2 separate regions of the Homo sapiens genome follow, and region 2 is linked to region 1. The links come from fine-mapping of genetic effects on gene expression. Tissue or cell type: blood mononuclear cells. Region 1 holds a variant in brackets; the other region holds the start of a gene. All regions are shown on one strand. Distances are from middle to middle.

Region 1 (15,719 bases):
GGGGTGGAGAGGCTCTGGGGAGCAAAGGTCAGTCATCCTCAAGCACACACAGACACACATGCACACACCAAGCACACCAGGGGAGCACAGGTGCAGGGCGTAGCCAGCCAGAAGCAGGTTTCTTCCCCAGAGCAGAGAGAGCATGGCTGCCACGTGGCACACGACACACCTGCGCGCCTCCCCCGACCCCCCCACACACATACCACATGCTCTCACATGGTCCCCTTATGCCTGGAGCAGGTGTTGTAGCTCACAAGTGCTGTCACAGCCCTGCGAGGGGAGGGTCAGAAGGGACTCTGTGGGTCTCTTGCCCAGACCATCTGGGGAGCTGGAGTGGGAGCTCCTCCATGCCCCAGCATGCTTGGGCGAAGTGCAGTGTAGAAGCAGCCACCTGGCCACCATCCTGCCAGCTGTGGCCCAGCACCTCATTTCCATCCGATGTAGCAGAGAGCTCACCTGGGTCACCTCCCACCCCTCTGTACCCTGTCCCAAACCTCACCTCATGTGACCTTCACAGCCCTGGGAGGTAGATGTGACTCCCCCAGTTTTAGAGGTTACCAAGGTCCAGGAGATGGCCCCTTCTACTGAGCTGGCACAGCTGGGGTGGGGACTGGAAGCCGGTTTCAGACCCGGAGGTGCCTGACACGGGCCTGGGCTCACCCTCCCTGGTTAGGGCCCCGCAGCCACCCCTCCCAGCCTGCCCCCACCTCCTGGGAGGTCCAGGACAACTCAGTGAATATGTCCCTGGTGCTGTCACTGCCCTGGCGGCAAAGCCACGCAGGGGTCTCCAGATTACGGGAGGAAGCAAGGACTGCGATTTCTTGAGTGGGCAGGGGCGCCTGTCTTGCCTGCCTCTTGCGGAATGCTAACACGGGTCAGGTGCTTTGCCACTTACAGATAACCCTGCCAGGCAGGTGGCATTGACCCTTCTTAAGAACAAGAAACTCGACTCAGAGAGGTGGCTTGCCCAAGGTCAGCTAGCTAGTAAGTGACAGAGCTGGAATTTAGGCCAAGCTCTGTCCACCTCAGGACCCCCACCACACCCTCTACCTCCACGCCTGTACCTGAGGGAGGCTGAACACTGCTCTCTTCCCTCCAGATACCATGTTTAATCACTGCCTCCCCCACTGGCCAGCCCACTGGCCCCTGAGCCACTAGCACAGGACAAAGGCCGGACCCCCTGTGTCCTCCCGGGGACCCTGGGGCCTGCAGGTGGGCCCAGAGCTGAGCAGACGTTTTTCAGAGCCTTGGAGTGTGTCTGGTATTTTTGTTTTGATTTAAGTGACATTGTCGTTGTTGCCGTGGCTGCGGCTGTTCTTGTGACGTTGCCCTGTCAGTCATGTAGCCGTTGTGCTCGTTCTTCTCGCAACTTGTCTCGTTCTCTCCTCCGTTGCAGATTGAAGTAGTCAATACTTTCAAGAGCGGGGCCTCCTTTCAGGGGGCCCTGCGGAGACAGTCCTCGGTCACCAGCCAGAGCCAGGATGTAGCCAATCTCTCTAGCCCTAGTCGCGTGTCGTTGTCCAATGCTCTTTCCTCTCCGACCAGCCTTCCTCCTGCTGCAGCCGGGCGTGAGTGTGACTCCTTACTGCCTCCGGCTGGCACTGCCCACGCCAGCTCCCAGGCGGGCAGGGGCTGGGGCACCAGAGGACATGGGGGGCAGCCGGTCACAATCAGGCCCAGGGGGATGAAGGGTCCCAGCCACCGAAGAGGGTCCCGTTGGTCAGGAGAGCGTAGCCAGTCATGCGGTGGCAGTCACTCAGTGGACCAGGGTCAGTCAGAGGGTCATTAGGGTCCCAAGTGGCCAAAAAGTCTGGTTCAGTCAAGGGGTCACCCTTGGTCAAGAGGACATCAGTGACCAAATGGTCCCAACCCACCACAGGGTCCCGGCAGCCAGAGGGGGACAGACATGGAGGGGACACAGAGTGTCCCACTGGCCTAGGGTCATATGTGGTCAGGAAAAGCCTGGACCACCAAGGCAAGGGTTGGAGTTGGACAAGAGGTCCCAGTCTTGCAGTCAAAGTCAGCAGAAGGGTCACTGTGGGTCAAGGGGAGCAAGCCCCTTAGGGTCCCAGTCAGTCACATTGGGATCCACCCAGGAGAGGGTCACGTCAACCAGACTTTCCCAGTTGGTCAGGGGGCACCCACAGTAATGAGGGTCATGGTCAAGGGGGACAGTTGAGCCAAGAGGTCACTGCAGGTCAGAGGTCATAGTCAGCCAGGGATCCCCAGGCCACCTAGGAGCTCACAGCCTAGACGCTGCACCCCAGCAGTTCAGAGTCTCTGCCCGCTTCCTGTCACTCCTCCCCTTGCACTTTTGACTGCATCAGCTGCCCTGCAGACACCTTTCCCTGTGGCTGAGCTTGGAACTTGCTGAAGTTCTAAGCCCTTCCTGGAAAGGACAAGGTCCCTGGCCCATTCAGCTTGACCCCTGGTAGAAAATGGTGGGTCGAGCCTCACATCTTGCCTGGGTGCCAGCAGGCCCAGAGGGACCTGATATGCCCTTCAGCATCCTGCCCTCCTTTATCTGAGAGATAGCCTGGGACTGTGGCCCCTCCTTCATCTCCCTCCTGCCAAGCTCATCTCCTCATGCCACCACTTCTGATCTAGATCACTCATTGCTGGCTTTGTCTAGCTCTTTCCCGGACCCATGGCTTCGGGCCCCATAGGGAACAAGTCTGTCTTTCCTCCCATCGCCCTGCTATGTTTCCAGTCAGGCGCTTCTGATCTGCAGGGGAGCCCCTGGTTCTGGTCTTCTCCAATTGGCATAGTGTCAGTCTTAGCCTCCAGCTTCTTTGATGAGAAGTAGACTCCAGCTCACCCCTTGAAACTTTATAAAGGGCCTCTACCCCCATCCAAAACCAGAACACCCACAACACAACCCCTGCAGCCAAGCAGGTAACCCGGTGTGCTGGTGGGAGCGCCTCCCTCAGTGCCTCCAGTAGGAGGCGCGGGCCACAGGGAGCCTGTTGATGGCAAATGTCCACGACCCATAGCGGCAGGACAGAAGCAGAAAGCAGGGAAGGAGCCTCTCAGTGCTCATTCGTCAGCACAGAAACGCAGTGCTGGGGAGGACCGGGGAGCCAAGATGAAATGGAGATGCATTTCAGCAGATGGTGGCTGAGTCACATTTCCATGAGATACCGTCACTAGGCAGTCACTGCCAGGATTTCTCGGGGAAGGCAACACCGGTCCCATCCTCCTCCCCTTTAGACCAGAGAGCTCTCACCTTAGCAGCAGCCTAGCCAGCTGACCTCCCAGCTCCTTTCTGCACCAACTCAGCTCTGGCCTTGCTCAGCACCCCCACCTATCCTGAGGTGCGGTAACCAAGTGTCCCGGCAGGGAGAGCTACATGGGGAAGAATCCACTTCTGTTCTGCCACCCCTCCCGATGACTCCTGCGGCCCTCCGGCTGGGGCTGCCTGCTAGCAGTCTGGCTTCTGGGTGAAGGCCCAGTTCTTTGTCCATCCCAGTTGAGCCTCTTTCTTGAAGGGCAGCACTTCACCCTGGCCACGACGGAGCACACCTGACATCGCTGGGCAGGCCCACTGCCTTTGGAAGTCGTCCCCGAGTCAGCCCCTCATCTTAGCTTTCACAGCCTGGAAGCTAGAGCTGTCCGCTCAAACCTCAGCCACTTCTTTCTCAGCTTTTCTTCTGCCTCATTTGCAAAGCCATTCAATAGGGCCCGTCCGGGAACAACACTTCTTTGCAGAAATGCCCTTTTCTTCATTTCTGCAGAAATGCTTAGACAGGAATGTGTCTACACTGACCTCCTTCGAGGCCAGATCAGTCCCCTGTAGCCCGTGGTTACCCCAACTTTGGAACAGTCTTGGAAAAGAAGCCCAGGCAGAGGCTCAGCCAAAGCCAACTTGACAGTCCTTGCCCTGACCCCTCATTCTCTCAGGGGACCCGGCAGGGTTGGCCAGGGCCTCCCCACCCTGCTCACCATCTTGCCTCTCCCTCTTCATGCCTCCTGGAGAATCTCGCATTCCCCCTCTGTGACAGAATCCAGCCTGTAATTCTGGGTGCCTCCTGAGACCCTTCCTGAGCCTATAGTCTTAAAAAGAGCCTGACCAAACCCCTGCCTGAGGGCACTGGTTCCCAGACAGGATCACAGCCTCTGTGGTTTCAGTACACACATTTGGACAACACAGCCTCGTGCCTCCTTTGCTTGAGTAGTGTCTACAACAGTGCTGCCTCCTCTGGTCTCCAAGGACTCTGAGGACCCTCTAAACACCAGCCAAGGTCCCTGCAGAAGCCAGTGTGCTTTCCTCCCACAGGGAGGTTTAAACAGGTGGCCAGGAAGTGACAGAAGGGCCCCAATTTGATGGGATGAGGAAGTGGGCCGCCCCACTACCCCACAACTCCTTCACCCCCACCGCACCCCACCAGCCTTCTGAGGGGGATCTGCTTCCTGGGGACTCCCCAGCAGAGGAGGCTGCCCATGTGCCTGCTGAGGCAAAAACACCTGCAGCCAGTGTGCCCTGGAAGGAGTCAATCCACTGTCCCCTGGGTTATGAAGAGTTGACCACAAAGGCCTGGGACAGGGCCTGACTTCTGACCTGGGACACTGGAGTGAGGAAAACCCCTGAACACATCGCAGGCCCTCCCCTCCCCACGGCACCACCGCAAGATGAAGGCCTCAGCAGACAGACGCACATGGTAAGCCTGACCGCAGTCACAAGGCACATGGCACGAGGATGCTCGGGAGGGAATGAATTGGTGCACTCTTCTGACTAACTCAAAAACGAGGTTGTTTTTGCCCCGGAAACTTAATGGCACGTCCCTATTGCCTTATACCTGAGCCCCACTCAACATTTCCAGAGCAGTTCCCCACTCCCTTTACTTCACAGATGCCTCACCACTGAATTGTGGGAGGGGAGGACCTGCCAACACATCCATTTCGCAGAGAAAGACACTGATGAGGCCAGGGTGACCACAGCAAGGGCGTGGCAAGAGGTCAGACTCCGGAGTCCCTCATTCTTCCCACTAGTCACACCGCTTCCCAGGAGGCCCACAGACCTGGAGCCACAGAGGCTGAACTTCCATTCCGGAACCAGTGCCCACGCCCACAGCCTCATATCGTGAAAAGGAGTCAGTCCTCCAGGGAAGGCCAGGGAAGCTGTTTCTCAGCTTGAACTTCTACCAGCGTGGCCAAGACTGGGGAGAAGGGCACCTTCCCACTGGTGGTCAAGGACAAGATTAGCATCCCACACTTCGATCCAAGGCAAAGCCGCACAGCCTCTCTTTCTCATTGCCTCAAATTCCTAACTCATCTCAAACCATCTTTGTGCTTAGCAAGTCTGTAGCAGGCTCCGTGTTTATCAGTGGAAGTCCTGCTCTTTCAAACCACCCAAGCCAAGAGCCAGCCCCATAAGCCAGGTCCAAGCCACATTCTGGACGCCGTACCTTGCTAGACAGATAAGGCACCTCCTGCTCCCACTTCCCCTGCAGATTCCTGGTTCTGACGACTCCTAGGGCAAGGAGTTTGCACTGTTAGGGGGAGAAATGAAGACAACAAAAAGGGAAGAAAGCTGGACTTCTCATTAGCGTTTTGGTAACTAATTTAGTGCAACCTTGGGTTGGCGAGAAAATGGCTTGCTTTGTGGGGGGAACCCTAGACCTCTCCACTGTCTGAATATTCCATGTGTTTGTTTCCCTAGAGGGCTAGAGAACCCTGGACACAGAGTTCAGCAAGAGAGAGTGAAATTAAAAGAGGTTGTGAGTCTTTAACCTTGAGCCTGAAATGAATGTGAATCAATCCCAGACTCTTGGCTTCCTTGAAGCCGGGTAAACATTCGAGTATGTAGAACCCATCTCAGACCAGGGCCTGTGCGTTTTCTCAGAGCCCTCTGACAACGGGCATGGGTCTCCCTGTTCCCTTTGTGCTGACGAAACCAAAACATCTGAAACCCCGCTCACCAGGTCCCTTCCTCTCCTTCCCCTCACCCCCACGCCCAAATGCAGCTTATGCCAAAAAAAAAAAAATTCCTACCTTTAGGGTAGGCAGGGAGGGGAGATGGAAGAGCCTTTTTTTTTTTTCCCATAGTTTTTTCCATTTCAGCCTCGGAGAGAACCGAAGTGGAGACTTGAGATGGCCGTGGCGGGGTGTCCCAAAAAGTCTCGTCCCCACAGTCTTGTCCAGAGCAGTTCATTTTTTCTGTTGTCTCCATGCCACGGGGAGGGCGGAGGGGCCTCATCTCATTGTGTGTCATCCCCTCTGCGTTGTCAGTCACATGACAGGGTCCTGCCACCATCCCCCTGCCCCACACATACACTAGGTGTTCCAGTCAGCATCTGAATTGCACTTCAACCTCAGAACACACTGAGCACCAGGCTAGGCAGCTACAGCCTTGATGCTATTCCCATTCTACAAACAAGAAAGCTGAGGCCTGCAGCGCCTTCTTTGTTTTCAGTTAATCAAGGTGTAACGGCTCACTTTTCAGGAGATCAGAATATGAACCATCTCTGCAGAGCCACAAAGAGGGACTCCAGGGGGAAAGAGCTCAGAGCAGCCACAGTGGCCATGATGGAGCACCAGCATAAAGGCCGTGTCTGGCTGGCTCTTATTTGGCACTTGTTGCCTCTTATTTAAAGCACAATTCCAGCAAGTGGGGTACCCTGGAGTCCCAGCTCACAGTATGCAAGGTGAAAGGACAGAGGTGCTTTTCAGAAAACAGAAAAGTCAGCACTAACTAGTAAGCGATGACTGACAGCAAGGGAGAAAAAACAAGACAATCCATGGGGTCTTACCTAAGACCAAGAAGGATAATTGACAAAGCTTATGTTAAATTCTTCTCTGTGCACTCTAAATTAGAAGTCAGAGGAGCGTATGACATGCTTTAGAAAGAATTCCCTCTGCAACAGTAAAACAAACCTTCAGCGATGACACTTAAAATCATCAACCACAGTCACCTAGAAACTCCACTTCCATAAAAGAGGGCTTTCCCCACCAGGGTTTCACAAAGGAGCTACCCCTGGGTTCCGCTGAGAGCTCAAGTCCTGGGACTTCAGGGGCCTCCCCACGACCGTCTCGTCCAGTCCCCTGCCTCCCCGCAGGCCTGTGGTGCAGGGCAGCCACTGCTCTGCAGGTGGGTGCCACTTGGCCTGCACACAGCAGCCGACTAAGGCTCTGTCCTGGAGGCGCCAACGCCGCCTTGTTTTCTCCACCTCTGACTCCACTCCGAGTTGGGGCTGGGACGAGAGGAGGAGGCACCTTTGTCCCAAGTCCCATCAGACTCTTGAGATGACAGGCACTGCTGCCCCTCCCAGGAGTCCAGAGAAGGGACACCTCTCTTCCAAGTGAGGGTCCCGTCCCTCTGCACCCTGTGAGGCAGGACAGAGGACAACCAGAGAGCTAGTGTGGCTTGTCCACAGTCAAGGCACCAGATGTGGCAGAGCCAGGATGCAAGTTGGGTCTTTCTGCCTCCAAGTCCAGTGCTCTTTCCACTAGCCTTGAAGACTCAATGACCAGCCTCCTCCCATTCTTCAGCGGAGGAAACTGAGGCCCCAGGACGTGTGGTTCACAACTGAGACAGAAAATGAAAGAACTTGCTGTTTTGTGACTCAGTTCCACACACCCCAGAATCCCACTGGGGCTGGGTTTGGCCATCTGATTCCAGCCTCGTTTTTTGGTTTTGTGTTTTCAAAGCACAAATAAAGAAATAAACAAAATCCCCCAGGAAATAAGAGACCCCAAAGCAAGCTCCAATAACTGGCCGGCCAGGGCTTTGAGTCTATACTCGAGTGTTTACCTCCCAAATGCATGAAGGAAAGAAACGCTGGGTACAAACGACCTCCGTTCACATTGTCCAGGCTTCCAAGTGTAGCCGTGTGTCTGTCTGTGTGTGCCATGTGGCTCCCGGCCTCCCCGTGGCATGCAGCCCGCCCCCGAATGTCATCTGTCCGCCAGCTCCCATGTGCTTTCTGGCTGCCTCTGCTCTGCACCTCAGAAAGCCCTGGGTTGGCTTTGGTTTGCTTTGCTGCCTTTGGTTTGATGTTCCCGTTCTGTTTGGCCCTCATGTGTCTCTCTCATCCCAACTCATCCAACCGTCTCTCCTTTCTGTGCCTTTTCTGTTTGTGACACGTAACATGTTCCATGTTGTATGGTTTCTTAACTGTGTGTGGTTTTCCTAAGATGAATTTTTTTAATAGCCTCTCCTCTTTCCTACTTGATTCCCACCTGGTCCTCCTCCCTGTCTGCATGGTTGAACCTCTGCTTTAAAGTGAACAAGGCTCAGTCTCTCACTAGGTGTGGGTGCCCGCAGGAGTCGACTGTGCTTCCTTTAACCACTGTTCCCCATCATCTCTTTGATGGTGCTTGGTGATTCCTCCTGTCCTAACACTAGTTTCTACCAAAACCAAAGAGATTTTTAAAAACCAGCTCAAGGATGCCTATAACCTGAGCCCCCTTTTTCACTCTCCCCCATCCTGTCAATGCTAATAACACCCAGCGACTATGGATTCCAGCCACCTGCTTTGCCCTAACCCTTCTCCCACCCGCCCCTCCTGTGAGCCCCCCGAGCCTGGCTGTGGTCCCTGGGCAGTGCTCCTGACCCCTGTGCTTCCCTTGCAGATCCGCGTCGTGAAGGCGTTCCGTAGCTCTCTCTATGAAGGTTTAGAAAAGCCTGAATCTCGAACCTCCATCCATAACTTCATGGCTCATCCTGAATTCCGGATCGAAGATTCCCAGCCCCACATCCCCCTCATTGATGACACCGACCTGGAAGAAGATGCCGCGCTCAAGCAGAACTCGAGCCCGCCGTCATCCCTCAACAAGAACAACAGCGCCATCGACAGTGGGATCAACCTGACGACCGACACAAGCAAATCAGCTACCTCTTCAAGTCCAGGGAGCCCCATCCACAGCCTGGAGACGTCGCTTTAGCTGAGGACCCTCTCGCCTGCCCGCCCGCCCTCATGGACCCCGCTGCCACCCGCTTTCCGGGCACCCATCCATCCAGGCACCCAACTCACCCAAGCAGCAACGAGCAACAATCGGAAACCAAATACTGGAGAGAAAACCAACGTTTCCACCCACAGACCCTTTCTCTGGCTGCGATGCTGTTTGAACTCTTTTTCACTTCAAGGCAAGGGGCGGGATCTCCACTGGGGGCTTACGGGAGTGAGCGGTTTTCCCAAAACAAGCCCTTCCTGGCTCCCACCCAGACATGGACCAGCCATGCACCCGCCCAGCCACCACGTCCCCCGCATGAATGTACTGTACACTTTCAATCCTCCCCTTGTTTGGTTTTTGGGGGTTGGGGAGGGGTTTTTGTTTGTTTGTTTGTTTTCTTAGGCGGGAACTGCAAACAGACTCTTTTCTGAGACTATTTATCCAATCCACTGGTCTGTGAGTTTTTGAAATGCTTGCACAGCATGGTCTCAGTTGTATAGATTAATTTAATAACTTTTTGAAATTGCAGAGCTTAACTCGCCTAGTAGATTTGCACCAATGGAACCGAAGAACTTCATAGACACTCACAAGGTTATATCCATTTCTTTGTATCTATATCAACGTATACTTTTCCGAGACTGTATACGTCCATATAGATAGGTAGATATATATATATATATATAAATATATATACATGGATATATAAAGTTTCTTTGCCGGCATGTTGCCTTGTTTCCGCTTAAATTGCTCTATTTTAACTTATTTATGTCCTAAAAGAAGAATGTAATTTGTTTACAAACCTGTAGATAACGTCTTTGGCTATTTGTATGGTTTAAGAACACTGGTGGCTGAGATGCTATAAAAACAGCTCGGCCCAACAGACACTTCCCCTGGGTTGCATCCTGGATGTTTTATGATAGCCATGCTCTGATTTTTGCCTGCTATTTCCGTTCAATAATGTCACTACCGTGAGAGGCTCAGGCAGAAGCCAAATGCTACCGAGTTGCCATCCTGAGGGGTTTAACAACATGCTCCGTAGACGAAGGGAGAGGAGGAGAGAAGGCTTCCTGGGTTTGCAACACTAACGGCCATCCGGCCCAAGGATGCCAGGATCTGCAAAGCACTGCTCGAAGACTTTTCTCTCAATGAAACTCGCTTGAGTTTACTAAGAGCATTTCAAAAATAGGTTCTCTTTGGCACTGTCTGTACAGAGATTGAGGTAGTGTTGAAATATTATAAATGGTATTGTGTTGATTTTTTTTTTTATTTAGTAACTTACAGGTTTGTTTCCTTATTAATGGCAGCATCTGAGCTGTTGGCATATTGGATGAGGATCAGTATGGCTTGCTGCTTTTATTTTTATTTTTGAAGAAGAATAGCCTTTTTCTCTGCACTATTTAGATCCGAATGAACCTTATGATGTGTATATTGAGATGTACTCAGTGTGATTTTAAACCAAATTGTCTTCCTGTAGTCACAATATATACTGTAGCCTTTTAACAGCAAGTCTTGCTTTCCCAAACAGAAAGCCATTCTGAAACCCTACAGTATCACAGGTGAGAAAAGGTGGTTATTTTTTCCCCAAGACAACAGCACTAGTAATCCCACTTAATAAGAGCTTATTTAATTGGATGTCAGCCTCTTAACTGCTAAGCACTTTGTGGGTCTCAGCGTTTTTCATAAAAGAACTTTTGTATTTAATACAAAGTTTGCTTTGAGACTTTTCAGCATATGATCTTTTTTCCATAAACTTGTACAGTGCAAAAGACATTTTGAATACCATGATCGATGATGTCCCATGCTTCGAGGAAAACCAAACACTTTCCGCCTCTCTTGCAAAATCCATTCCTCATGCTGACCCTCCTCACGATGGCTGTGTCAGCCCAGCCCCTTCCCTTCTCCAGGCCCAGAGAACTCTTCCACAAACAAGATGAGAGCCACTCGGGAAAAGAGCCATAGTCAACTGGGAGGGCCTACATCTGGATGGCGGTGGAAAAACTTGAGGGTTTGGGGTTCAAAGTCAGCCCATCCCACCTGGCAAAATCCTCCTGGAAGGAGGACCTTCAAGAGCGCATCACCTGAATGTCGTGAAGAAGTATCTCTGAATGTATCCAGGAGAGGAACTGCATAACCAAAGGGGTGACCAGCCCTCAGATGTGCTTATTGGATTCCAGTACAAACGCCACCAAAGCCAGCCCACTGCTCTCCTACAAGGAAGGAAAGATCTGCACGTGTAAAACATGGGGCAGCCTTGGAACATGGTGTTTTTTGGAGTTTCCTTTCTCACAGTTTTCCATCTCCCCACTTCTTTGATCAGTCATGTGTCCGTGACCTCGTTCCATGACATCAGGATAGCTGTGTTTGCACACCATGCTCCATGTTCATT[C/T]GGAGCCAGGAGGGGTTCTCAGTGGAGCCTGGCTTAGGGAACAGGGAGCGATGGAAGAATGCCAACATTAGCGTTGGTCTTCTCTTGTCAGGAATGAAGGATGCTTGCACACATGCACCCCCTCACTCTCACACTTGCACACATACACACACACACACACGAAATGGTTGGTTTGTCAAAACTCACTGTAGTACATAAAGCTTGCACTCTGCGTCCTATATCTAGCAGCATGGGGTACGTTTGGCAGTTCACTCCATTAGGGGGTAAATAATTTATGACCATTCATCTGTTTTTATGAATTTTTTTATCTAGACAATAATGTAAATAAAGAACTCACCATCTCTGTTCATTTAATACTATGCAATGGTTATGCTTTCAATCGCTGGCTCTTCTGACTCGTGCAGTGTGGTTCTGAAATGTTTGTGGTTTAAAAAAAAAAGCAAAAAACAACATCAAACAGAACATAGTAAATATATCTGTAATGTATACTTTTTTCTACTTTGGGACTGCATCATCCACATAGCTTCTTTTCTGTCCTCTAGACAAGGGCTCCAGGAGTAAGTGGCAGATTTGGTTCTGAGAGCTAAGCTCACCAACTTGTCTCCCCCTCAACAGATGAGGGAAGGGCAGGGAGCCCGTTCAGTGACTCCTGGCGCTGCAGAATCACTCATCTTTGGAGGTGAGCAGAGAGAGCTCTGAGGAGTTTCCTTCTTGCAACTCAGGCGGAGCTTTCTTTAACTCAGGAGCAGCCTCCATTGCTCCCGCCAACCCCTCACCATGGCCCCTTGTCCCCTTGTCCCAACCATAGCATAGAGATGACAAGAGAGAGGCAGTCCTATTTCTGAGACTGGACCAATTAAAATGACTGCACTGGCTCAAAGGACTCTGAACCTGTCTTGTCCTGGGTCCTCCAGTTGTTGGAAGCCACTCTTTTCCCCAACCATGCTGAAATGCCACCTTTACCACACACTGATGTCTTACATAGACTTAGATCTATTTCTGGAACTTCTCTTCTCTTCGCTTACTTGGGTGTCTCATCTGGCACCAGCCATACAATTTTAACTATTGTCAATTTCTAATGTCTTATTATGTGGTGGGATGAGTCCCTTCACTCTTCTTTTACAAAATTTCCTAGTTATTCTCTCACATCTATTCTTCCACATAAACTTTAAATTGTGCCCAGTCCTCCACCCCCTGTCCCATTCCCACCCCCAAATTCTGGGCTCTGTCATTCCCTGTGCCATCATCTTCCCCCCATTGTAATTACTGTCCACTCAGGGCTGTGAAATAGACTATGTTCTGTAAAGAGGGACAAAAAGGGCATCCTGATCTTGAGAGAAGCCTGCTGTTCCTCCCATCATTTCACCTGCCCCCTAAGCCCAGGAGTTGTCATGAGAGGTCACCAGGCCCCCACTCAATCTCAGCTTGGGAACCAAAGTCACCCACCTTGGTTGTGTTGGGGTGGACCCGCCATCTGTCCCTGGTCCAGACGAGAAAGAGGAGTCTCTCCTAGGCCTGGAGCTGGGAAAGAATGTGTGGCCCAGTTGTCTGCACTTCTAATTCTCATCATGGAGAAACCTTTATTCCTATCTCCCTTTCCTGAACTGGTTTTTTGTTGTTTTTGTTTCATTTTGTTTTGGGGGGATAGTTTCTTGCTCTTTAATTTGGAGTCTCCAGTACCTTTGGGATGCAGGCAGTTCTTGCCTGGGCCTTCTCGGAACCCTCACTCCCCTAGCCCACTCTTGCGCTACCTGCAGGAGGCTGCCAACCTGGTGCATTCTGACAAGCCTCCCACCCAAATCTCTCTCCTGCCATTGTGTCCAAAATCCCACCATTAGAGGCTCTTGTAGGGAAGAGCGTTTCTTGAAGGCTTTTAGGCCTTCCAGAGCCAGGAGGGAAGTCAGACAATAGCAGGAAGTCCCCAGGCCTTTTCAAAGTTCCAAACCAAGCTCTCCTGATTTTAATGTAGAGATCATACCAACCCAGGTGGGGGAGGAGGGTCCCCAGCCCCAGGCAGCAGCCATCACCCCCTCCACTGAAAACAATATTGGAGGCTGCTTTGGGACTGCCCTTCTCAGCCCCCTAAGTCTGTTTTGTAATGCCTGTGGTGCTCTCCCTCCTGGACCTTTCCTCTCGGGGGTCACCACACTTTGCTAACTCTTGTGTGCACATATTTTATAATAGAGTAGCGAGGGAATGGTGCCGCCTCCAGCTTCCGTAAGCTGCCCGGGCTCTGGGGGGCTCTGGGACAATCGGGGCTGGGAAGTGACTGTGCTCTTATTGTACACTCTTTATTTCTCTGTATCTTTGGCTTGTGCTCTTTGTAATTAATGGGATTTGTCTGCCTTTTCAACACTATACTGAGCAATAACAATAAATGCACACGTGGAAATGCAGACACGGTACACATCACAAGGCCTTTTTCTGAAGGACAGCTGGGTCCCCGCCCTTCGTGGAGTTGAACTCAGGGGGAAACTGAGTCCCTGGGAGGGAAATGCACTTTGCCCAAGGGCCCACAGCTCAGCGGGCAGTCTCTCTCCTTCCACTAGATCACACCTTTTGAACACCCACCATTTGAGGGAGACAGGCTCACCCTGCCATGAGCCATTAACCTATGAGGAATGGTTGACCATCTCATAGAAGAAGACTGGGGAACGGGGCCTCAGGACGAAGCGGAGGAGGTTTGGGGGCAAGGGGTGGGGGGGCAAAAATCAGGGAAAGTTGGCCTGATTTGGGGTCTGGATTAACCAGAGGGAGGAGATGCGGAATACAGACACTGGATCTAGGTGGCACCCCCCTACTGGGGAGAGGGGTAAGGCAGAGGGAAGCCTGGCACCTGAGGAGTCTGGACTTCACAAACCTCTGCTGAACATTGGCAGAGAAAGAGAATATGCCCAGACCAACAAGTAATCCCTAAGGTTGGCCCAAGGGTTGAGAGTTACACACACACTCACACACTCACACAGCTCTTCTTAGGTTGAACTGATCCCCAAATCAAGCGCCATAGGCCCATCTGACTTCCATACGCAGTTTCATATCCAAGGGTTCATTTAATCCCAATATCAACCTTCAGAGGAGGTATTATTATAATTCTCACTCAAAAGAGCAGGAGACAGCATCTCAAAGAGGTGAAGAGCATGCCCACCTGGTAAGCAGGAGATCCAGCACTGATACCTAGCAGTCTTGATGCCAGCATCTGTACTCTAAACTGCCATATTACAGCGCCTTATGGGCCAAATACCTTACAGCAAATACCTTAATGAATAAGATACAGTTCTGTTGCTTGTCACAAATCCCCAATCTCTTCAACATCAGTGTCTACACAAGGAAATTCTTTTAATCACAATTATGCCTGATGCATTATATTTACATCTAATATGCCCTTGTCCTCATTTTCCACTCAAAGAAAGTGAGGCTCAGAGAAAAGTGACTTGGCCTTATCACCTAGAAAGTCAGTGGTGCAGCTATAGAGCCAAGGCCAGAGCCTGTTCCTTGAAGAACAGGAGATCTGGCAGGACGCAGCGGCTCACACCTGTAATCCCAGCACTTTGAGAGGCCGAGGAGAGTAGATCACCAGAGGTCAGGAGTTTGAGACCAGCCTGGCCAACATGGTGAAACCCCATCTCTACTAAAACTACAAAAATTAGCCAGGCATGGTGGCACATGCCTGTAATCCCAGCTACTCAGGAGGCTGAGGCAGGAGAATTGCTTGAACCCGGGAGGTAGAGGTTGCAGTGAGCCAAGATCATACCACTGGACTCCAGCCTGGGCAACAGAGCTAGAGTCCATCTCCAAAAAAAAAAAAACAAAAAAAACAACAGGAGATCCAAGAGATCCCCTGAAACCTGCCTTTGTTCCCTGCTCTAACCTAACCACCACCCCCTCACACCCCTGCAACAATTTCTCCACTAGAGGGCAATAAAAAATCTTGAAAGCTGCAGTGGGGTAGAAGAGTTGCCCAGAGGCCTGGCCCTTAATTCTAACACCCTACTCCCCTGGCCTCCCCTCCAAAGCTCCTTGACAGTTTGGGTCTATCACATTCTCTGAGCCTTAACATCTTCCTTCAAGCAGTGACCATCTCCAGCTAGGGTCCTTACTCCCAGTTTCAGCAGAGGAAACTGAAGGACTGTGACTTGCCCAAGGGGAGCCAAGGCCTCCCCCAGCTCATCTGCCTCCTTAATGTCACAAGGGGCCCAGGGCTAGACCATATGTGGCTGAGGCGGGGAGCCCAGGCTCTGTCCTCCAGTGTGGCATTCTCACTGCGCTTGTGGGGAGCCTTCAGCTGCCCTACCTTGTGAAGCCAGAGACCTGGGGTTGGGGACCCTGAGGATTAGGTCTGGGGCTCTAGCTGCAGGAGCCTGGCTGAGATCCTTCATTGCCTAGGGGGGTCTCCTTGATGGGACTTACTCAGGACCCCAGGGGATCGGTTTGGAAGGGGCAG
Region 2 (14,296 bases), 35 kb after region 1:
TACCTAAAGGACTTAGTATGTTTTCAATCCCAGAGCATTCTGCAGTGTGTTGAGTGAATAGTTTGTCCCTAAAGCAAGAGTTCTTAAAATCAAAATCGTTATTTTCATTTTTAATCAAACTAATATATGTACATAGGTTTAGATTGTTTTTGTTTTTTGTTTTGTTTTTTGAGATCGAGTCTCGCTCTGTCGTCCAGGCTGGAGTGCAGTGGCGCAGTCTCGGCTCACTGCAACCTCCGCCTCCTGGGTTCAAGCGATTCTCCTGCCTCAGCCTCCCCAGTAGCTGGGAGATTACAGGTGGCTGCTAGTTTTTTTGTGTGTATTTTTAGTAGAGATGAGATGGGGTTTCACCAGTTCAGGCTGGTCGCGAACTCCTGGCCTCAGGTGATCCACCCATCTCAGCCTCCCAAAGTGCTGAGATTACAGGCGTGAGCCACCATGCCCGACCTAGACTGATTTTTTTTAATGCAGCCTCCTAATTTTCTCTCCAGGGGCAAACCTTTTCAGCTCTTAGCTATTTCTTATACAGTTTACTTCAGTGTAGAAACAACATATTGAACTGTTACCTTCCTCTACCACAGTAGTTTTCAAACTGCAGTGTTGTTAAACCTGTTAAAACAGATTGCCAGCCCCACCCCCAGAGCTTCCTAATCAGTTGTTCCAGGCCCCAAGAATCTGCAGTTGTAGCAAGCTCCCAGGTGACCGATGCTCTGCTCTGGTCTGGGGACCACACTTTGCGAACCCTGCTCCCCGCCACCCCATATCCTCTCGCTGTAGCTCTGTCACAGTTTGCTGAAAACAGTATCCTGTGTTGACATCATCATCCACAGCTGCTGTTATTGTTACTCCTTTTTTTCTGTGAGTTTTTATTCCTGGACTCTCATTTTGGTGAGATTTCAGTGGAGGAGGGACATGCTCTGTTCACCCACAAGCCTCTGGGCAGTGGTTCTTGATGAGGATGAGGCTCATATTTAGGGGACAGCAGAGGGAAGGGCACAGACCCGTGATAATCTGCTTGTGCACTGACTCGCAGGTGACCCTGTGGAAGGAGTCAGTTGATGGGCAGTGGGTGTGCATCAGTGATGTCAACAAGGGCCAGGGCTCCGTATCAGCATCAGTGACAGAGGGCCAGCAGAACGAGCAGTGACAAGACAGGTGGGGCCTGGCTCCCCACCCGCCAGCTCCAGGACTGCCCCTTCCTGGGCCAACTAACCAGACAACTGGGAAGAGCCCCCAACTCCAACAGGATTATTTTCCCAGGAGGAGTTACAGATGCAGCCACAGATTGATCATCTGCCTTAACGTGATCGGAGATGCTTTGTAATCTACTGTCCAGCTGAAAGCACTCATGTTACGAGGAAGAAACTACAAGTGATGTTCAAATCTATTTTGGGTCATTTTTATGTACCTTTGGGTTCAGGCATTATTTGGGGGGTTTTGTTTCCAAAGGAACTAAATAAAGTCATATTGCTTATAATTCCTGCTGCGTTATCCTAACCACCCCACCCCACCAGCTCAGTTTGACTCTTGTCGGTCCACGCACTAGAACAAACTATTCACAAAGGCCACGGCTGTGATGGCCTGGCTTAACCCCACGCACAAAGGTGGCTTGTCACTGCATGAGCATCTCTGATTCAGTTTATACTGAAAGCACCATACAGAGCACTGGACTCAGCCTTTGGTGACAAGGACTGTAGCCCTGGGTCTGCTACTTACCCTCTCGGTACACATCCTGTTCTGCAGAATGGGACTAATACAGTCTGCCCTACAGGATGGCTGCAAGATTCAAACACGCTAGTGCATCTGGTGACCTACAAAATGCCACGCAGGTGCAACGTGGTATTAACCAAACACCAATAGTTAAGATGCTGGCCCAGAAAGTGGGCACGATTCATTTAGTTTATTGACCCTGTCAGGAAAAGGAGGGCCCCATGATGGGAGACCTAACTGACCCTGAACCAGGTATCACCTTTCAGCGGAGGCCCTGTGACCCTGACAATCGCCATAGCCATCAGTGAGCCTGCGGTGAGCCAGACCCTACACTGGATCTTTCACACATTCGCTAATTTAAGCAACACGAGAACCCCGTGTGGGTGTACCCAGTTCACTGATGAGGAAGCGCTCAGAAGGTAGAAGCCCTGCCCAGGACTGTGCAAACGTAAAGCCAGCGTCAGGGCCTGGCCCATCTCAACAGTTACTCCCCACTGTAGAATCAGGGTGGGAGCTGGGGGGCTCTCCTCAGCTGTAATACAAGGATGTTTCTCACACCAAACCTTTGTATGAATAGATTCAGATAAAAGGTCAGCCCACTTGCCTCAGGCCCCCTAGTCTGCCTACTTCTTGTCCTTCCCTCCTTTTTCAGCAGCAAAATCCCCTTTAAAAAAAAAAAAAAATCTTTGATCATACTATGTAACATAGAAGAAAGTGAAACTGCTTTGGTTAAAGGTGAGGACAGAGAGGCCATGGCCTGGCCCAGTCAGCCTCCAGTCAGTCCACAAAGCCCAAGCCTTCTGAGACCAACATGAAAACAGCTGCTTCCTTCCTTCCCTTACTCAGAAAAGCAAAGCCCAGGAAGGCACCTTCACGTGCACTACTGAGTGTCGAGTTCTACAGTGAATCCTTGAACCATATCCACGTCTGCCTCCCTGATACGCTCTGTGCTCCTCAAGCCTGGGCCTGGGCTTCCTATGGTGCCAGCTGCTGTCGCCAAGAAAATACCGAGAAGGAACTAGTCCCGTGTCACTCTGGGTTGGTGGTAGGTTAATGGGTCCCTGACTGTGTGCTCTATTTTAACTCCCACCACCAAGGATTGGTTAAGATAATTATGAAGTTGGCACCATAATAGTTGTTTATACTTAGAGTGGCAACACATTAACCATTCCTGGGTAAGAGGAGACCCCAAAATTTATTACCACAAAATAGCCTAGTCAAATAGAAATACTATCTGTAAAACTTGCCGGGCAGTTGTCAAGCCCAAATGAGATAAAAGTAAGGGAAATTTAAAAGGCATAGAGCTCTGGTTAGGGCCAGATGGCGCTAGCAGCCATATGTTTTTAATCCTTTTGCAAAAACAAAGCAACTGGGACAGCAAAAGAAACCCACAGACCCTAGAACATGGAGCAGGCCAAAGCCTTCATAGACACAATACCTCTGAGAGATCAGCAGGGTGAAGAAAAGGGAGTTTTTATGGTGCTATAAGCCAGAGACCCCAAAAATTGCCATCAAATACTCATCCATTCTGAGTGCAAAACTCAGCAAGCCACTGTGAAAACAACTCCCAAAACTAGAAGATTCACAGGCTTCCATTTACAAGTGAGCCCAGAAACACTAAGGGGAGACCTTCCACTTCTGCATATAAAGGATTAACGATTGTAAGAATTTCCCAGCCAACATGGTGGCTCACAACTGTAATCCCACACTTCGAAAGGCCAAGACGGGCGGAATGTTTGAGCCCAGAAATTCAAGACCAGCCTGCCAACATGGCAAAACCCCATCTCTACTAAAAATACAAAAATTAGGTGCAGTGGTGTGTGCCTCTGTAGTGCCAGCTACTCAGGAGGCTGAGGCACAAGAATCGCTTGAGCCCAGGAGGTGGAGGTTGCAGTGAGCCGAGATTGCACCACTGCACTCCAGCCTGGGCAAGAGAGTGAGACTCTGTCTAAAAAAAAAAAAATTTCCCTGGCTGGGCGCAGTGGCCAGCACTTTGGAAGGTTGAGGGAGGAGGATCTCTTGAGCCCAGGAGTTTGAGATCAGCCTGGGCAACACAGCAAGAGCCTGTCTCTTTAATAATAAATAAGAATTTCCCTCACACTATAGACAACTAGGAAATTAATTCAAGATGGATTAAAGACTTAAACGTTAGACCTAAAACCATAAAAACCCTAGAAGAAAACCTAGGCATTACCATTCAGGACATAGGCATGGGCAAGGACTTCATGTCTAAAACACCAAAAGCAATGGCAACAAAAGCCAGAATTGACAAATGGGATCTAATTAAACTAAAGAGCTTCTGCACAGCAAAAGAAACTACCATCAGAGTGAACAGGCAACCTACAAAATGGGAGAAAATTTTCACAACCTACTCATCTGACAAAGGGCTAATATCCAGAATCTACAAAGAACTCAAACAAATTTACAAGAAAAAAACAACCCCATCAAAAAGTGGGCGAAGGACATGAACAGACACTTCTCAAAAGAAGACATTTATGCAGCCAAAAAACACATGAAAAAATGCTCATCATCACTGGCCATCAGAGAAATGCAAATCAAAACCACAATGAGATACCATCTCACACCAGTTAGAATGGCAGTCATTAAAAAGTCAGGAAACAACAGGTGCTGGAGAGGATGTGGAGAAATAGGAACACTTTTACACTGTTGGTGGGACTGTAAACTAGTTCAACCATTGTGGAAGTCAGTGTGGCGATTCCTCAGGGATCTAGAACTAGAAATACCATTTGACCCAGCCATCCCATTACTGGGTATATACCCAAAGGACTATAAATCATGCTGCTATAAAGACACATGCACACGTATGTTTACTGCGGCACTATTCACAATAGCAAAGACTTGGAACCAACCCAAATGTCCAACAATGATAGACTGGATTAAGAAAATGTGGCACATATACACCATGGAATACTATGCAGCCATAAAAAATGATGAGTTCATGTCCTTTGTAGGGACATGGATGAAATTGGAAATCATCATTCTCAGTAAACTATCGCAAGAACAAAAAACCAAACACCGCATATTCTCACTCATAGATGGGAATTGAACAATGAGAACACATGGACACAGGAAGGGGAACATCACACTCTGGGGACTGTTGTGGGGGGAGGGGACGGGGGAGGGATAGCATTAGGAGATATACCTAATGCTAAATGACGAGTTAATGGGTGCAGCACACCAGCATGTCACATGTATACATATGTAACTAACCCACATATTGTGCGCATGTACCCTAAAACTTAAAGTATAACAATAATAAAATAAAAAAATAAAATAAAATAAAATAATAAATTTAAAAAAAAAACAACAACTAGGAAATCATGAAAAGTACATGAAACAACTACTGCTTTCAGACATAGGACAACAGGCAGTGTTTGGGAAAAGGGAAACAGGTAAGCACAACAAATGCACCAGGTTACTACTACCCAGAAGCAGTTTCTGGGCCAAAAGGTAAAGAGAGACTCCAGAGTCTAGTAGTCTCCAGGAGTTGAAGAGACAGAAGTCAGAGTTCAGGAAGACCAAGGCAGGCCGGGCGCGGTGGCTCACGCTTGTAATCCCAGCACTTTGGGAGGCCAAGGCGGGCAGATCACCTGAGATCAAGAGTTCGAGACCAGCCTGGCCAACATGGTGAAACCCTGTCTCTACTAAAAATACAAAAATTAGCCGGGCGTGGTGTTGCACCCCTGTAATCCCAACTACTCGGGAGGCTGAGGCAGGAGAATTGCTTGAACCAGGGAGGCGGAGGTTGCAGTGAGCAAAGATTACACCACTGCACTCTGCCCTGGGCGAAAGAGCAAGGCTCTGTCTCAAAAAACAAACAAACAAACAAAAAAGACCAAGGCAGAACTGAAGGCAGAAGAGGACGAGAGGAGGAAGCTGCACAGAGCAAGCTCCTGAGAGCTGAAGAGTCTCCTGGAGTCTTTGGACAAGTACTAACCTTCATATATGAAGGGTGAAACCAATAGACCAAGCAGCTGGAGCTCACATAGGGGTGGGAATAGCCCATGTTCCCAGCAACCAGAAAAAAAAGAGACATTCCATCCAGAAGAACAAATATAAGAGTGGCAGCAGGCCAGGCGCCGTGGCTCACGCCTATAATCCCAACACTTTGGAAGGCTGAGGCGGGTGGATCACGAGGTCAGAAGTCCGAGATCAGCCTGACCAAGATGGTGAAACCCCATCCCTACTAAAATTAGCCAGACATGGTGGTAGGTGCCTGTAATCCCAGCTACTCGGGAGGCTGAGGCAGGAGAATTGCTTGAACCCGGGAGGTGGAGGTTGCAGTGAGCCGAAATCACGCCACTGCACCCCAGCCTGGGCGACAGAGCAAGACTCTGTCTCAAAAAAAAAAAAAAAAAAAAAGGAGCAGCAGCCAACTTCTCATCAGAAAGTAGGCAAACCATAAGAAAATTAACATCTTTAAAGTACTGAAAAAATTAAAAAAAAAAAAACCTGTCAGCCTCAAATTCTATACCTAGTGAAAATATATATATATTTTAATACAGACTCTTTCAAATAAAAGCTGAAAGAATTAATCACCAGCAGAGCTGCCATTACAAGAAATGTCAAAGAAGTTTCCTTCAGGCAGAAGGAAAATACTAGATGAAAAACAGGCTGGGCACAGCGGCTCACACCTGTAATCCCAGCACTTTGGGATGCTGAGGCAGCAGGATTGCTTAAGCCCAGGAGTGTGAGGCCAGCCTGACCGACATGGTGAGACCTTGTCTCTACAAAAAAAAATACAAAAATTAGGATTTACAAATACGACTTCAGGCCCAGCGCGGTGGCTCATGCCTGTGATCCCAGCACTTTGGGAGGCCAAGGCAGATGGATCACTTGAGGTCAGGAGTTCAAGACCAGCCTGGCCAACATGGCAAAACCCCATCTCTAGCAAAAATACAAAAATTAGCTGGGTGTGGTGGCGCATGCCTGTAGTCCCAGCTATTCAGGAGGCTGAGGCAGGAGAATTGCTTGAACCCAGGAGGTATGGGTTGCAGTGAGCCAAGATCACGCCACTGCACTCTAACCTGGACAACAGAGCAAGACTCCATCTCAAAAAAAAAAAAAAAAAAAAAAAAAAAACAAATATGACTTCAACATATTGCAAATACCTTCAACAACTCCGATATCCCTTTGCAAATATCCCTTTACAGGCTGAGGTGGGAGGATCAGTTGAGCCCAGAAGGTGGAGGCTGCAGTGAGTTGAGATCACGCCATTGCATTCAACCACAGGTGACACAGTGAGACCCTGTCTCAAATAAAAAAGAAAAGAAAAATGGATCTGCACTAAGGAATAAGGAGCAACACGATAGTAAATACCTGAGTTCATAAGACTTTTTCTTAATTTCTTTAATCTGTCTAAAAACTTTGGCTATTTAACATGCATTGTGGGGCTCATACCTTAAGTAAAAATAAAATGTGTGACAATAATATCACAAAGAATAGAAGTGGGGAAATGAAAGCATTCTGTGGTGCAGTTCTTACACTATCTGTGAAAGGATATCGTAGTTGTTGAAGGTATTCTGCAATATGTTGAAGTCATATTTGTAAATCCTAGAGCAACCACTCAAAGAATAGAACAGTACAGTATAGCTAATAAGCCGACGGTGAAGACAAAATGATACCATTCAAAACCCTCTAAAAGTGGTTATGACAAGAGAAAGAAAAGGAAGAACAGATGGGACAATGGAAAAATTGGTGACTTACAAATAGTCTGGAGATTAACAGTAATGTGCTAACACTGGTGTTTTAATTTTGATAAATGTACTACGGTTATATAAGATATTCACGAGTGGAAACTGAATTGGGTTATTCAGAGAGAAAGATTTCATCTTCCATATGTTTATATTTTCTGCTGGAAGCAAGCATTTATAATCAAAATTTACCTGGGATACTTGGTAATTTATAATCAAAATTACCTGAGATACTTGAAACAGATTCTAAAGCCCCCACGCCAGAGCTACTGGATCAGAATCCAAGGATGGAGTCTTATAAACGTGCATAAAACTTATGAAGCTTTCCTCATGAATCCAACACAACCCAACACAGGTCTGTATCTGGAAATTGAGACGAGATGGCCCTCCAAGCCACGTCCCACCCTGAGGTCGTCCTATGGCTCTTAGCGGTCCATAGACTAAAAGGCTGGATGATCAGCAACGCTGAGACAACAGTTTCAGTACAGCAGTGGGGATGAGAGGCAAGGTCAAGTTTTGAGGGGCCAGGACACAGCAAAGAAGAGGACACAAGGAAAGGGGAAGGAAATGGAGATGGTAACACGAGGGGAGGGTGGGATCGGTGCACAACAGACGTTTTCAGGATTAGGAACCTGGGTGTATTTTAAGGCAGAAAGCAGAAGCCACTGGAGGGGAACAGAAGACACGAGAGAGGCAAAGTGTTAGAGCTTTGGCCCCAAGATGGCCGGAGGCTAGGGAAGCCCCAGTGAGAGAGGCAGAGCTTGGCGAAGAGGAGGGATGAGAGAGCATGGCTAAGGTCAGGGAGGATTTAAGAGCGATGGCCGCCTATCTAGAATGAGCCGCATGTGGCTGCTGAGCATTTGAAACATGGCTAGTCCAAATTGAAATGCACTGTAAGAACACACACTGGATTTCAAAGACTACACATCTGTAATCCCAGCACTTTGGGAGGCAAAGTCAGGCAGATCACTTAAGCCAGGAGTTCAAGACCAGCCTAGGCAACATGTCAAGACTCTGTCTCTACAAAAAATACAAAAATTAACTGGGTGTGGTGGTGTGACCTGTAGTCCCAGCTACTTGGGAGCCTGAGGTGGGAGGATCATCTTAGTCCAGGGAGGTGGAGGCTGCAGTGAGCCATGATAGTGCCACTGCACTCCAGCCTGGGTGACAGAGCAAGAACCTGTCTCAAAAAAATATATATGTATATTCATTTAGACATATGCTGTTGCACACTTAGACTATAGTATGGTATCAGCATACGTTTTATATTTACTGGGAAACCAACAAAATTCGTGTGACTTGCTTCATTGTGGTCTGGGACCAAAGCTGTAATGCCTCCAAGGTATGCCTGTATATTTCTATTGCAAAATGTGAATCTCGAAATTATAAAAGCTACAACTAGGACAAAAAGCAACCCCACCAAATAGCCCTATATCAAAGAATAAAATCTCTTTCTAGAACCCCAGAATTTGCCTCTTTCAGACTGAAGTTTAGCCAAATCTATGAAAAAAGAGCTTGCTAAACCAACTAATTATCAGTACAAATAAAATTATAATGAAAAGTCTATGAAGATAATTTGTTCTCAGATGCCCTTCACATATAGCAATTAATTCACAAATGATGAGTCACTCATGTGCCTTCATGAAGGCAGGCCCTCAAGAGACCCGCAACAGAAAGGAAAGCCACCGACTGGAGAGAACCTGCTTCCTGAGCCCCACCAAGTTCCAAAAAGGAGAATGGGGCTTCGTCCTCACCCTCAAGGAGTTGCCAAACTGGGCTTGGTTATTATTCACACTTGAAAAGAATGAGGAAGGTCAGCCAGTCCCCTCCAGGTCGCTCGGGCTTCCTCCAAGCTCCTCTTGGTTCAAATTTGCTGTGTCCTCCAGCCGGCATCTCTCCTCTGTTCCGTAACTGACAGGGCAGCGAGGTAGCTTCCGGATGACTCCTCCCGCCATGGTTCTTCCGTCCATCAGCTCTTCCTTCCTCAACTCTGTGGTATGTGGCTAGGGGAGTTTCCAACTCCCAGGGGACATTTCAGTTCCCCAAAGATAACACAGCTTTGCACAGTGGATGTTTACTTGCTGGTGGTCTTATCTAAGATCAACATTGGCAGCTGTGCCCGGAGAGGCCTCCAGGGTCCAGGTAAGTGGAGGCTTCATGTCTCAGGAGGTACCTGGTCACCACAGTTAGGATTTTTCTGTTTGGGGATTTTTTTTTTTATGGGTTGGTGGCTCTGAAAAAGCTGCAAGTCTTCTCTGAGGACTACAGACCTCTCTCCACCCTCTCCACATTCAGCCTCTCTGGGCTCCAGGGCCAAAAGATGTCTACACTCAGGTGGCAGACAGGCCTGTGAAGACCTCCTGGTGACATGCTCATATGTTGCTGGGACTAAAGGTGGGATTTTAGCCACCACAGTGGGTTGGTGGTGAGATGTTTACCAACAGGAGGTACTTTGTCCCTCATGTCCACTTAAAGATTCAGTCCAACCCGGCCTGTGCTTCTGCTGTCCCAAGAGACTCTAGAAAGCTCCAATCCTCCCTGAGGTTGATCTTTTAAGTCAGGGTAGGTGGTCATTCGGCAATCAACTGCTCTACTGCCTCAATGTCCTCCTCACTGGACGTCCTGCCCCAATTCCATCCTGTTCAGCGCAGACTGATTTTCCTGGAACACAATGTTCATTATGGAGCCAGATGGCATATCAGAAAGAGCACTGTATTAGGAGTCAAGAGATCCATGGGGGAATCCCAGCATTGCCCCTGATGGCTGTATAGCTTTGGGGAAAGTGAGGCCCTCTTGGCATTCAGTTTTTCTTCCAGCGAAATAAAGGATTCAGCCTCCCAGAGCTTTAAAGTCTTTCCAACTCTTTCATTCATTCTATGGTCTCTCTCTCCTCAAGAATCCTCAGTGGCTGCCCTCCTGCAAAAAAAGCCCAAACTTCTTGGGCTAGCAGTTCCCAAGGCATCCATCACCTGGCCCCAAACCACCTTCTTATGTTTTTGTTATGACCCCATCGCCACCCTCCCCCAAGCCACCCAGCCTTCTCCATGCTGCCCTGATGTACTCTACCCACGCCTTCACCTCCCCTCTGCTTGCCGCAAAGCCCTCCCTCCAAAGCCCTGCCCCGAGTTCACCACAGGCCTCTTTCCTGGAGCCTTTGCTAACATCCCTGCCGCAAGCCCCAGCCTAAGGTGAGCTCCTCTCCTGAACTGCTAGAACTTCTCTGCAGACAACTCATTGGCCCTTAGGGGTTCCTGCCTGGGCACCCAGTTGGATGAAGCACTCCAGAAAGGAAGAAATTCCTGGGGCCGAGGGAAATGAGGCAGTGGCCTTGGCCTATGCTGGGAAGTCCTATGGGCCTGGTATGAAACCATTGTCATCTGCAGGGTGTTTCACAGGTTAGAAGCCACTTTCCCCCCATCGCCTCATTTCACCCTCAAAGACTCTGGGTAAGGGGAATTATTTGTGGTCGGCGTAAGGCCAGTCAATGAGAGAGGAGCCAGGCCCGTGCTAAGCGTAGATCTTCCACCTCCAGGTCCAATGCACTTCCCTCTCAGAAGAGGCATCCGCTAAAATAGGGACCAAAGCTGCTGGAGGGAGGCAAGGCAAGCTGCTATGTGAAAAAACGCCAGGCCAGGCAGTCATGTCACACCTGGCAGAAATGACTGAAGCATAGCCACTGGCTGAAGTTATCCCCACACCCACTCTCTGGAGAGGATGATCAGGAGCAGTCTGCTCAACCGGGAGGTGGGACTCCTCCTCGGGAAGGTGTAGAATCACCAGCCTGGCTCCCTGCGGACTCCCGGGGCTCACAGAGGCCAGAGCAGCAACAGCACATGGGAAACAACGGGGCGCTGGACTGGGGAGGTCTCAGAGCTCTCCTAGTGATGACAGCCTCATTTTACCCAGGGAGAAAGGGCGAGTAAGCTAAGGTCACACAGCAACAAAGCTGCACCCAGACCCCAGAGCCACTCTCCTCCCTCCCTCCTCCACCAGGGCCATGCCCACTTGGGGCACCCCGCCACCGTGTTCCAGGGACAGCTGGAGCACATGCTTCTTCCCTCGCCAACCCAGCAATTCCGCAGGGCATCTGACCTCCACTGTTGACTTCTACCCAGAGGACAAGAACATTTTTAGTTCCCAAGGAATGTACATCAGCCCCACGGAAGCTAGGCCACCTCTGGGATGGGGTTGCTGGTTTAGAACAAACGCCAGTCATCCTATATAAGGACCTGACAGCCACCAGGCACCACCTCCGCCAGGAACTGCAGGTAAGCTCTCTCTACTCTCCGTGTGCGTTTGCTGACAGGTTTATTGTCCGTGACTGCTGCCCGTCCGTTTAACCTCTCTGGGCCTCAGGAGTCCCCTCTAAACACGGGGGATGTCGGACTGTCTGGCTGGAAGACAGAGCTTCATTTAGGAGCTACCTCTAACCCCCTCCCTGCTGAGTGCCCTGGGGCCCTTGCTGGTTCAGCTTCCTCCCTCCTCATGAAAAGACTCGCCATGAGCTCTCAGAGCCTGGGACAAAAGGCACCGGGGAGGACCCCCAGCCCCTATCAAGTCCTGCTGCCAGGTGTTCTGCCCTGAACGGCCTTGGAGAAGAGAACACACATCCATCATCTTCTACCTTGGGAGGTGGAAGCGGGGGTCCTCTCTACACAGCAGTCAGGACCCCAGATGGTAAAGCCCTTCACGCCATCTGCTGGGCTCCTACCTGAGCAAGCTCAGAGGCACATGAGAAGGGGAGGCAGCTGCCTGGAGACCCTCTCTCCCCCAGGCCCACCTGTCTGCAACCCAGCTGAGGCCATGCCCTCCCCAGGGACCGTCTGCAGCCTCCTGCTCCTCGGCATGCTCTGGCTGGACTTGGCCATGGCAGGCTCCAGCTTCCTGAGCCCTGAACACCAGAGAGTCCAGGTGAGACCTCCCCACAAAGCCCCACATGTTGTTCCAGCCCTGCCACTTAGCAACCAGCTCTGTGACCTGGAGCAGCAGCGCCATCTCTGGGCTTCAGTCTTCTCCCAGAGCACAAAGGACTCTGGGTCTGACCTCACTGTTTCTGGAAGGACATGGGGGCTTAGAGTCCTAAACAGACTGTTTCCCCCTTCCAGCAGAGAAAGGAGTCGAAGAAGCCACCAGCCAAGCTGCAGCCCCGAGCTCTAGCAGGCTGGCTCCGCCCGGAAGATGGAGGTCAAGCAGAAGGGGCAGAGGATGAACTGGAAGTCCGGGTCGGTACCTCTGCAGTTTTATGCTTCTGTGGCAGCGAGGAGGGTGGGGTCAGGGGAGAGGGAGGGCAGGGAGAGGTGGCAGTGAACAGGGTCCCAACTACAAGCTCCCCAGAACTATAAAACCAGTACCACAGGAGTTGAGCTCTGCCCTGGGCTCTGTGAGGTCTTTACCCATTAAGAGAAAAATATCTAGAAGAAGTAACTTTGCTACAACAGAATAGGGACGGAAGGAGCCTGGGCAGAGGAGAGAGGGTGCCAGAGCCTCCAGGCGACTCAAAGGGGACAGAAAATACAGTGCCCAGAGACAAAGACACCCAGAAATAAACGGCAGGCCCAGACTGAAGATGTTGCTCTGCAGAAAACCATGTTTTACTCAGGGGCTTCCAGGGCCTGGACTGTGGGGTGGAGTGCTTCCGAACAGCACCCTGGATGGGAGGGCTGGCGCCAGCCCAGGCTCCGGCACCCACTCACCTCGCCTGGAGGCAAGGAGGGGGCAGGTGTGGGTGATGTGCTCTGACAAATCGTGCGTGGGGCAAGGAGAAAGTTAAGACAACCCAAGGATGGAGAGGAGGAGGGAGTAAAGGATTTTACGGGGTTTTCTATGCAACCTTCCTGTGGCTGTGGTTCAGGGAATGGTTTCTTCTAAATATTTGGTTGGTGACACCATTTCGCAGCTAAGGCAGGATTCCCCCAAGGTAGCACTTAATAATGGCAGCTATTAGACGCTGTGCCCGAGGATACCAACTTCACCTCTAACTGCCCCACCTCCTCCCTACGACAACCTGTGAGGTAAGCAGGGCTGGCATTACTCCCACTTTAGAGCCAAGGAACAGTTCAGAGGTGAACTCACTTGCCCAAGGTACCACAGCGGTGTGTGGAAGGGACGCGACACAAGGTCAGGGCTGACTCCAGTCCCCAAGCCCTCTTCCTCCTCACTGGTCTGATGGACAGAGACAGCGCACAGTGGCCCAGGGGAGGCCTCTTCCTTCCAGAGGAGTGAAATGTGCCCGCCTTGGCCTCTGCCTGCCTGTTTACCATACTCTTCTCCAGTCGAGGAATAAAGCCGTCGGAAGCTCCCCCAGCCCCTGCTCGCTTTCATCCTCACCAGCACCTGGCGGTGTTCAGACCTTTCCTCTACACGGTGGGATCCACTAGATTCTCATCTGAAAGAGCTGCATACCCTTAGGCCAAAACCAGGATATTTTGCTGGTGAGACGGCTAGCTCCACACATGGTCATCCCAGCCAGAGGAGCTGCCCAGTACCCAGATGAGAAAGAGGTCTTGGTGGCTGACGACGCAAGGTGGGGCTGGTACAGCGGGAACTTTGCAGTTTCTGTGAAAGCTAGCCTTGGAGCATGTGACCCACACTGCCTTGGCTGGAACCAGAAGTCAAACGCCTGGGGGGTGTTGGGGCTGCCAGAAGAGGAGTGGCTGCAGAGACCTGGAGCGCCCCACTACCAAACCCCTCACAACCGAGTGTCCCACCCACCTCTCTCATCTCAGGCCCCTCTACCTCCCCCCAAACGTTTCCCTCCCAAAATCAAGTTTCAGAGTAGAAGACTTTGGAGACCAAGTCCCACTCCCATTGAACAGATGGGCCACTGAGGCCAGGAGGGAAGCTGCCCCCCACCAGCCAGCACTGTGTCACCA

Evidence for each region. PIP is the estimated chance that this variant, and not a neighbour inherited with it, causes the effect.
Region 2: GHRL starts here. The variant in region 1 is fine-mapped to the expression of GHRL in blood mononuclear cells (TOPMed, PIP above 0.99).

The regions. Positions count from the first base shown.
Region 1 is chr3:10,321,978-10,337,696 of GRCh38, reverse strand. It overlaps ATP2B2 (ATPase plasma membrane Ca2+ transporting 2), which reads left to right. Exons shown (of 23, transcript NM_001001331.4): 23 at 8,572-13,674. The coding sequence ends at 8,883. MIR378B (microRNA 378b) reads right to left here and starts at 7,468; the gene lies at 7,412-7,468. RefSeq lists an enhancer at 8,865-9,413. The variant C/T (reference allele first, on the strand shown) is at 11,279.
Region 2 is chr3:10,288,112-10,302,407 of GRCh38, reverse strand. GHRL (ghrelin and obestatin prepropeptide) reads left to right here and starts at 9,461. Exons shown (of 6, transcript NM_016362.5): 1 at 9,461-9,566; 2 at 10,957-11,692; 3 at 12,199-12,335; 4 at 12,530-12,646. The coding sequence starts at 12,228. It overlaps GHRLOS (ghrelin opposite strand/antisense RNA), which reads right to left. Exons shown (of 6, transcript NR_073568.1): 6 at 8,959-10,340. SEC13 (SEC13 homolog, nuclear pore and COPII component) reads left to right here. Exons shown (of 9, transcript NM_183352.3): 9 at 1,034-1,477. The coding sequence ends at 1,147. RefSeq lists enhancers at 9,269-9,563, 9,374-9,623, 9,634-9,703, 11,215-11,817, 13,648-14,263.